2 separate regions of the Homo sapiens genome follow, and region 1 is linked to region 2. Evidence: fine-mapped expression QTL. A gene starts in region 2. The other region holds a variant in brackets. All regions are shown on one strand. Distances are between the middles of the regions. Region 1 has its middle 5.9 kb from the start of FKBP11. Region 2 holds the start of DRC2 (dynein regulatory complex subunit 2).

Region 1 (2,848 bases), 27 kb after region 2:
TGTATGCCCCATTCCTCCCTTCCTATCTCCCCCAAAGAGCCAGCTAACTGATGGCAAGGTCAAGGTTGCAATCATGTCTGGAGCTAAGTACTAGCTACACGATAGCCTCCAAATAATAGATTCTAGACAGTATGTTTTACTTTGAAGAAATTATACTATGAAATACTGAGAAGCCATTAAAAGGAGATCTAATTACACTAATATAGAAAATCTCTAAGACAAATGTATATATACCCTAAGTAAAAAAGCAAGTAGCAGAATAACAGATGTGATATGAGCCCATTTATATTTTAACCCCTCCACAAACATGTGTCAGCACATACATTTAAAAAAGGAACTAGAAGGATGCACATCAAATAGCTGAGGATGGTTACGTTTGGGCATGGGAGAGAGAAGAGTAAGGGCAATGTCCCACATGTTGCTCTGTATATTTTTGTATTGTTTGGATCTTTTACAATAGAAATTACTTTGGTTATAATTTTTTTCCTGCTCAGATGTTACTTCTCAGGTTATAAAAATAATTTTTAATATTAAATATTACACGAATAAACAAGATATATAGCAATACAAGGGAATGAGTGGGAGGTGTTAAATGAGTTGTGCTAACAGAGCTAAAGGAGCCAACGTGGGGAAAAACTATAAAAGTCCTTGTAGTTGCAGAGGGCACAGGCAGCTTTGTGGAGGAGGTGAAACTTGAGCTAGATCTTGGAGTGGGATTTTTAAACAAGTGAGAAAGGAGGTGAAGGCAGAGGGCCAGATGTTTGGGAAAAATGAATGGACTGATTTGGCTAAAGTAAGGGATTTGGCCAGAGACTAGAGAGAGGTGGCTGGAGAGGGAATTAAGGGCTAGTTGTAGGCCGGGTGCAGTGGCTCACGCCTGTAATCCCAGCACTTTGGGAGGCCGAGGCGGGCGGATCACGAGGTCAGGATATCGAGACCCATCCTGGCTAACACGGTGAAACCCCGTCTCTACTAAAATTACAAAAAATTAGCCAGGCGTGGTGGCGGGTACCTGTAGTCCCAGCTACTCGGGAGGCTGAGGCAGGAGAATGGCGTGAACCCAGGAGGCGGAGCTTGCAGTGAGCCGAGATCGCGCCACTGCACTCCAGCCTGGGCGACAGAGCGAGACTCCAGCTTAAAAAAAAAAAAAAAAAAAAAAAAAAAAAAGGCTAGTTGTGAAGAACCTTGAATGTCAGACTAAGGCAGTGGGAACACATTGCAAGTTTCTAAGCAAAAGGATGACACAGCATACTGCACTGATGTATCAGCAGACTCGAACAGTGTGGTGAAGGTGGAAGGCTATTGTCTTATCCAGGTCTGAGGCTCTGTTCAGGAACCTGAAGGGGAAGAGGAGTGGAGTAGGAGAAGGTGGTAGTAGAAATGGAAAGGGCAAAACTATTAAACACAATATCCACCCACAGGCAGCACAAGCCCATCTGCACCCTGGAGGGACCAGAGAAGGAGCTTTTTCCTTGGATCAAGTTAGAAGAAATCCAAACAACAGAGAAAGGTGAGATGATTCTTGGAAAGATAGGAGAGTTGGCCCACCCCTGGCTGGAGATACAACTTAATCACAGAACCATTGCTAGAAAAGCCTCCACACTCAAAGGTGTCTCTGTCAGTGTGTAGGAGAAACCCTACCACAGTACCTGGGCTTCCAAGACTCATGGGGCACCCACCATGCCCAGCTTGATTAAAGACAATGGTGTTTATTAATTCATCCATTTGTTCATCAAGGTTGCATGACTATTATGTGCCAAAGAATAAGCAGAACACTGCTCTTTAAATGTTCTTAAGTGTTTA[T/C]TTATAACAGGTTGTTAATAAAGTAAAAGCCTGAGTTGGCATATATAAATTTGGGTTTAAAATTTGATTTTGGTTGAGACAGGGTCTTGCTGTGTCACCAGTGCGGTGGCGCAAACACAGCTCACTGCAGCCTCAATCTCTCAGGCTCAAGCAATCCTCCTGCCTCAGCCTCCTGAGTAGCTGGGACCACAGGCACGTGCCACCATGCCCAACTAATTAAAAACATTTTTTTTTGGCCGGGCACAATGGCTCATGCCTGTAAATCCAGCACTTTGGGAGGCTGGGGTGGGAGGACTGCTTGAGCCCAGGAGTTTGAAACCAGCTTGGGCAACATAGTGAAATCCCATCTCTATTTTTTTTAAATAAAAGTAAAAATATATATATATATATAATATAAACATATAATTGTATATATATCATATAAACATATATTTATATATATATATATATATATATATATATATATATTTTTTTTTTTTTTTTTTTTTTTTTTTTTCTTATAGAGATGGGGCCTCACCATGTTGCCCAGGTTGATCTCAAACTCCTGGGCTCAAGCTATCCTCCCACCTAAGCCTCCCAAAGTGTTGAGGTTATAGAATTGAGCCACCATGCCTGGCCTGGTGTTGTATTTTCAAGGGTATACATACCCCCAGCTGACTAGATGTTTTCTTTCAGGTATGTTTATGCATATATTCATCCAAGAATGAAGCACTTACTTACTTCCTCCACTCTTCCCCTATGGCTGTTCTAATCAAAGAGGTATCATCCCATAAATGCAAGATTTGGCAAAGACAAGAACAGATTCCCCATCTCCTATCTATAACCTAAGGCCAAGAGTGCCCTTTATTACTATATTCAGAACTCAGAAAGAATTCCTGTGGGTTAGAGCCCCAAGCTAAGCCCTCCAAGCCTTAAAAGTCCTTCTATTCAATTCTGTGCTGGGAGGACCCTGAACGATATATGGGATGGAGGGGTGAAGGTGGAAGTGGGGGGAAGCAGGTGCCAGGCGGACAAGCCCATTCTCAAACCTGCTGCCTCGCCTGGA
Region 2 (2,916 bases):
TAACTTCTTTTGTATTTTTTGTGGAGAAGGGGTTTCGCCACATTGCTCAAGCTAGTCTCGATCTCTTGGGCTAAAACGATCCTCCCGCCTCGGCCTCCCAAAGTGCTGGGATTACAGGTGTGAGGCACAGCGCCCAGCCTGCATATTCTTTTTGAGGTTCATCCACATTGTAGCTGGTATCCATAGTTTGTTCTGAATAATATTCCATTGTATGGACATAGCATATTTTGTCTACTCATTCACATGTTAATGGACATTTAGGTTGTCTCCAATTTTTCCAACTGGGCTATTATGAGTGAGACAGATAAGAAAATTCCTGTGCAAGTTTTTGTGTGTATACATGCTTTCATTTCTCTTAGGCAGATCCCTAAGAGTGAAATTATTGGGTCACATGGTAAATTTATGTTTAACATTTTAAAAAATTGCCAAACTGTTTTCCAAAGTGGCTACACCATTTTACATTTCTACCACCAATATATGAGGGTTCTCGTTTCTCCACATTCTCTCCAACACTTATCTTTTTAAAAAAGGTTTTTGTTGTTGTTGTTGTTTGCAGTTTTTACAGTTTTATTTAAACAGAAAACATACACATGAGCTGTCTACTCATTTTCTTTGCTGCGCAGCCTGGGATTGGGGTTGGTGACTCTGACGGCCAGCTGGGCAGCTCTTTTCCACGATGGCTTTGCGGTTCTTGGAGGAAACATTGTGAGCGATCTCAGCACAGTAAGATTTGTTGCACAACAGCAGCACTTCCAGCTCCTTGACGTGTGGACCAGGAATTTCCGGAAGCCACTGGGCAGCATGTGCTTTGTTTTCTTGTTGCTCCCATAATCAATGTTGGGCATCAAGATCTAACCCTTGAACCTTCCACGAACCCTGTTGTCAATACCTCTGGGTTTCCGCCGGTTACGCTTAATTTTGACATATCGGTCAGACTGGTGCCGGATAAACTTCTTGGTTCTCTTTTTGACGATCTTGGGCTTCCCAAGGGTTCTGAGGACGGTTTATAAAAGTGCACTGAGGGGAGGCTGAGACAGGAGAATTGCTTGAACCCGGGAGGCGGAGGTTGCAGTGAGCCGAGATCGTGCCCATCCTAGGCGACAGAGAGAGACTCTATGTCAAAAATAAATAAATAAATAAATAAATAAATAAATAAATAAATAAATAAAATGCACTGAGGAGACAGATTTTTGAGAGTTAAAAGGACCCTCTCAAAAACCGACCGCGGTCCTCCACTGGGTAGGGGGCGCTCCAAGACAGGGACTCTTCTAGCCTGTTGCCTCTCCATGTTAGCGATATCCTCGTTGCTAGGAGACTAGACGCGTCTTACAGTGGGAGAGCTCAGCCTCACTGATAGCCGGGGATCTCTCCTGTTCGAGGGCTGAGATCTCCGGTCCCACAACCGCCCACAACCAGGGGCACTTCTGGAAGTCCCCTTTCTAGGGACATTTTTCTTCTAAGCTCTGTAACGCGGGCCGAGGCAGACCGAGGCTTCTTTCCCGGATCCAATCCCCTGCCCCCATGCCTAAGAAAGAAAAAATGGCCAAGACGCCCCTGTCCGATGAGAAGCAGCTGCTTCTGTTTCAGCAGAAGTTGCTGGCAGAGGAGGAGATGGCCAAAAAGAAGGAGAGGCTCCTCAGCCAGTTCTTGAAGGTGATGGCCTTTTGCATTATGTCCTGCTCAACCCCATCCACCCCCTGCCCTGGCCCTGTCACTGAGGAAACCTCATTTTCATCCTGACCTCCCCTCCTCCGGAAATCCTGAGACCCAGATATACTTAGATTTCAGGCAACATTGTTTGGGAGGCGGGGGTGTTCTCTGCGAAGCACGGAGGGGGTGCGTGGTATACGGCTTGGCAATCTTTACTGAATCCCAGAACTGGGACCGTAGGTCCTGTCAGCTGTTCCAGCTGTCTGGAATGCTGATATTCTCCCTGGAGATAGGTCATTACAAACAACATCCTACTCTGATGCTCCCACCCTGAAGGAAATTCACCCTTGCCCTCCCTAAATGCCATCAGGCCGTTCCCATCGAAAAGGGGTAAGGTGTCAGCTGATAAATTAAGAGTGATCTTGTTTGTTGTACTGAAAGGCCCTGACTTCCTGGAGGTATATTTATTCCTTCACACAGGACAAGCTGGCCAAGGAGGAACACAACAGTGCTCTGAACCTTAATAAGATTAACACACAGTGGAGAACTGTCCTTCGGGAAGTCAAGACCAGAGAACTTCATAAGGACATTGAGATCCTCAGCCAAACATTTGAACGAGTGGTGGACTGTAAGGACAATGTCATCAAGGTAGGCACTCTTTCCAAGGAAACCTTGAGTATGGCTTCCTGACCTCTTAATAGAATGAGCCTAGTGAATCCATCTTAAAGCCCTCACAAGACACAGGCTGTGAGAAAGCCAGGCTATTGGTAATAATGGTTTTCACAGAAATAAAAAATAGAATATTGGGCTTTCATCCCTCTCTCCCTTAGAGGACCCACTCTTCTTGTCATCTATTGCCCAAAACCAGTACTATCCAATAGTAGAGTCATAAGGCACAGTAGACATCACCCAGTGACTTGAAATGAGTCCCACACCTTCATTTCAATGTCAGAAGGCTCAGTTCCAGAGGGGAACTGACTTGCCCAAGGTCACATAGCTAGTCAGTGAGAGAACCAGGACTCCAGCATGTGTTTATTGATTCCCACTGCAGTGCTCCATTCAACTAAATTGTTTGGCCTCTTGATTCAACTTCAGTGGCCCTGGATAAGGTTGAGAAGATCTCCATGGGTAAGAGCAGTTCTGGATTTCTAAGCAATTCAATCAGCCATCCTTATGCTCTTGGGAGGTTCTTGAGTTCTTGATTCCATCCTATCTTTTCTTCTAAGGGATTTTCTGTACCCCTTCTTTTGTCTTACTTTTAATATT

Evidence for each region. PIP is the estimated chance that this variant, and not a neighbour inherited with it, causes the effect.
Region 1: its variant is the best candidate, but not a certain one, in a credible set for the expression of DRC2 in whole blood (INTERVAL, PIP 0.55).

The regions. Positions count from the first base shown.
Region 1 is chr12:48,929,992-48,932,839 of GRCh38, forward strand. It overlaps a transcript of FKBP11 not described here. Among named protein-coding and RNA genes, the nearest start is that of FKBP11, 5.9 kb to the left of the region's middle. The variant T/C (reference allele first, on the strand shown) is at 1,804.
Region 2 is chr12:48,902,816-48,905,731 of GRCh38, forward strand. It overlaps DRC2 (dynein regulatory complex subunit 2), which reads left to right and starts at 1,318. Exons shown (of 8, transcript NM_033124.5): 1 at 1,318-1,653; 2 at 2,131-2,298. The coding sequence starts at 1,522. It also overlaps the pseudogene RPL32P27. RefSeq lists a silencer at 1,275-1,324.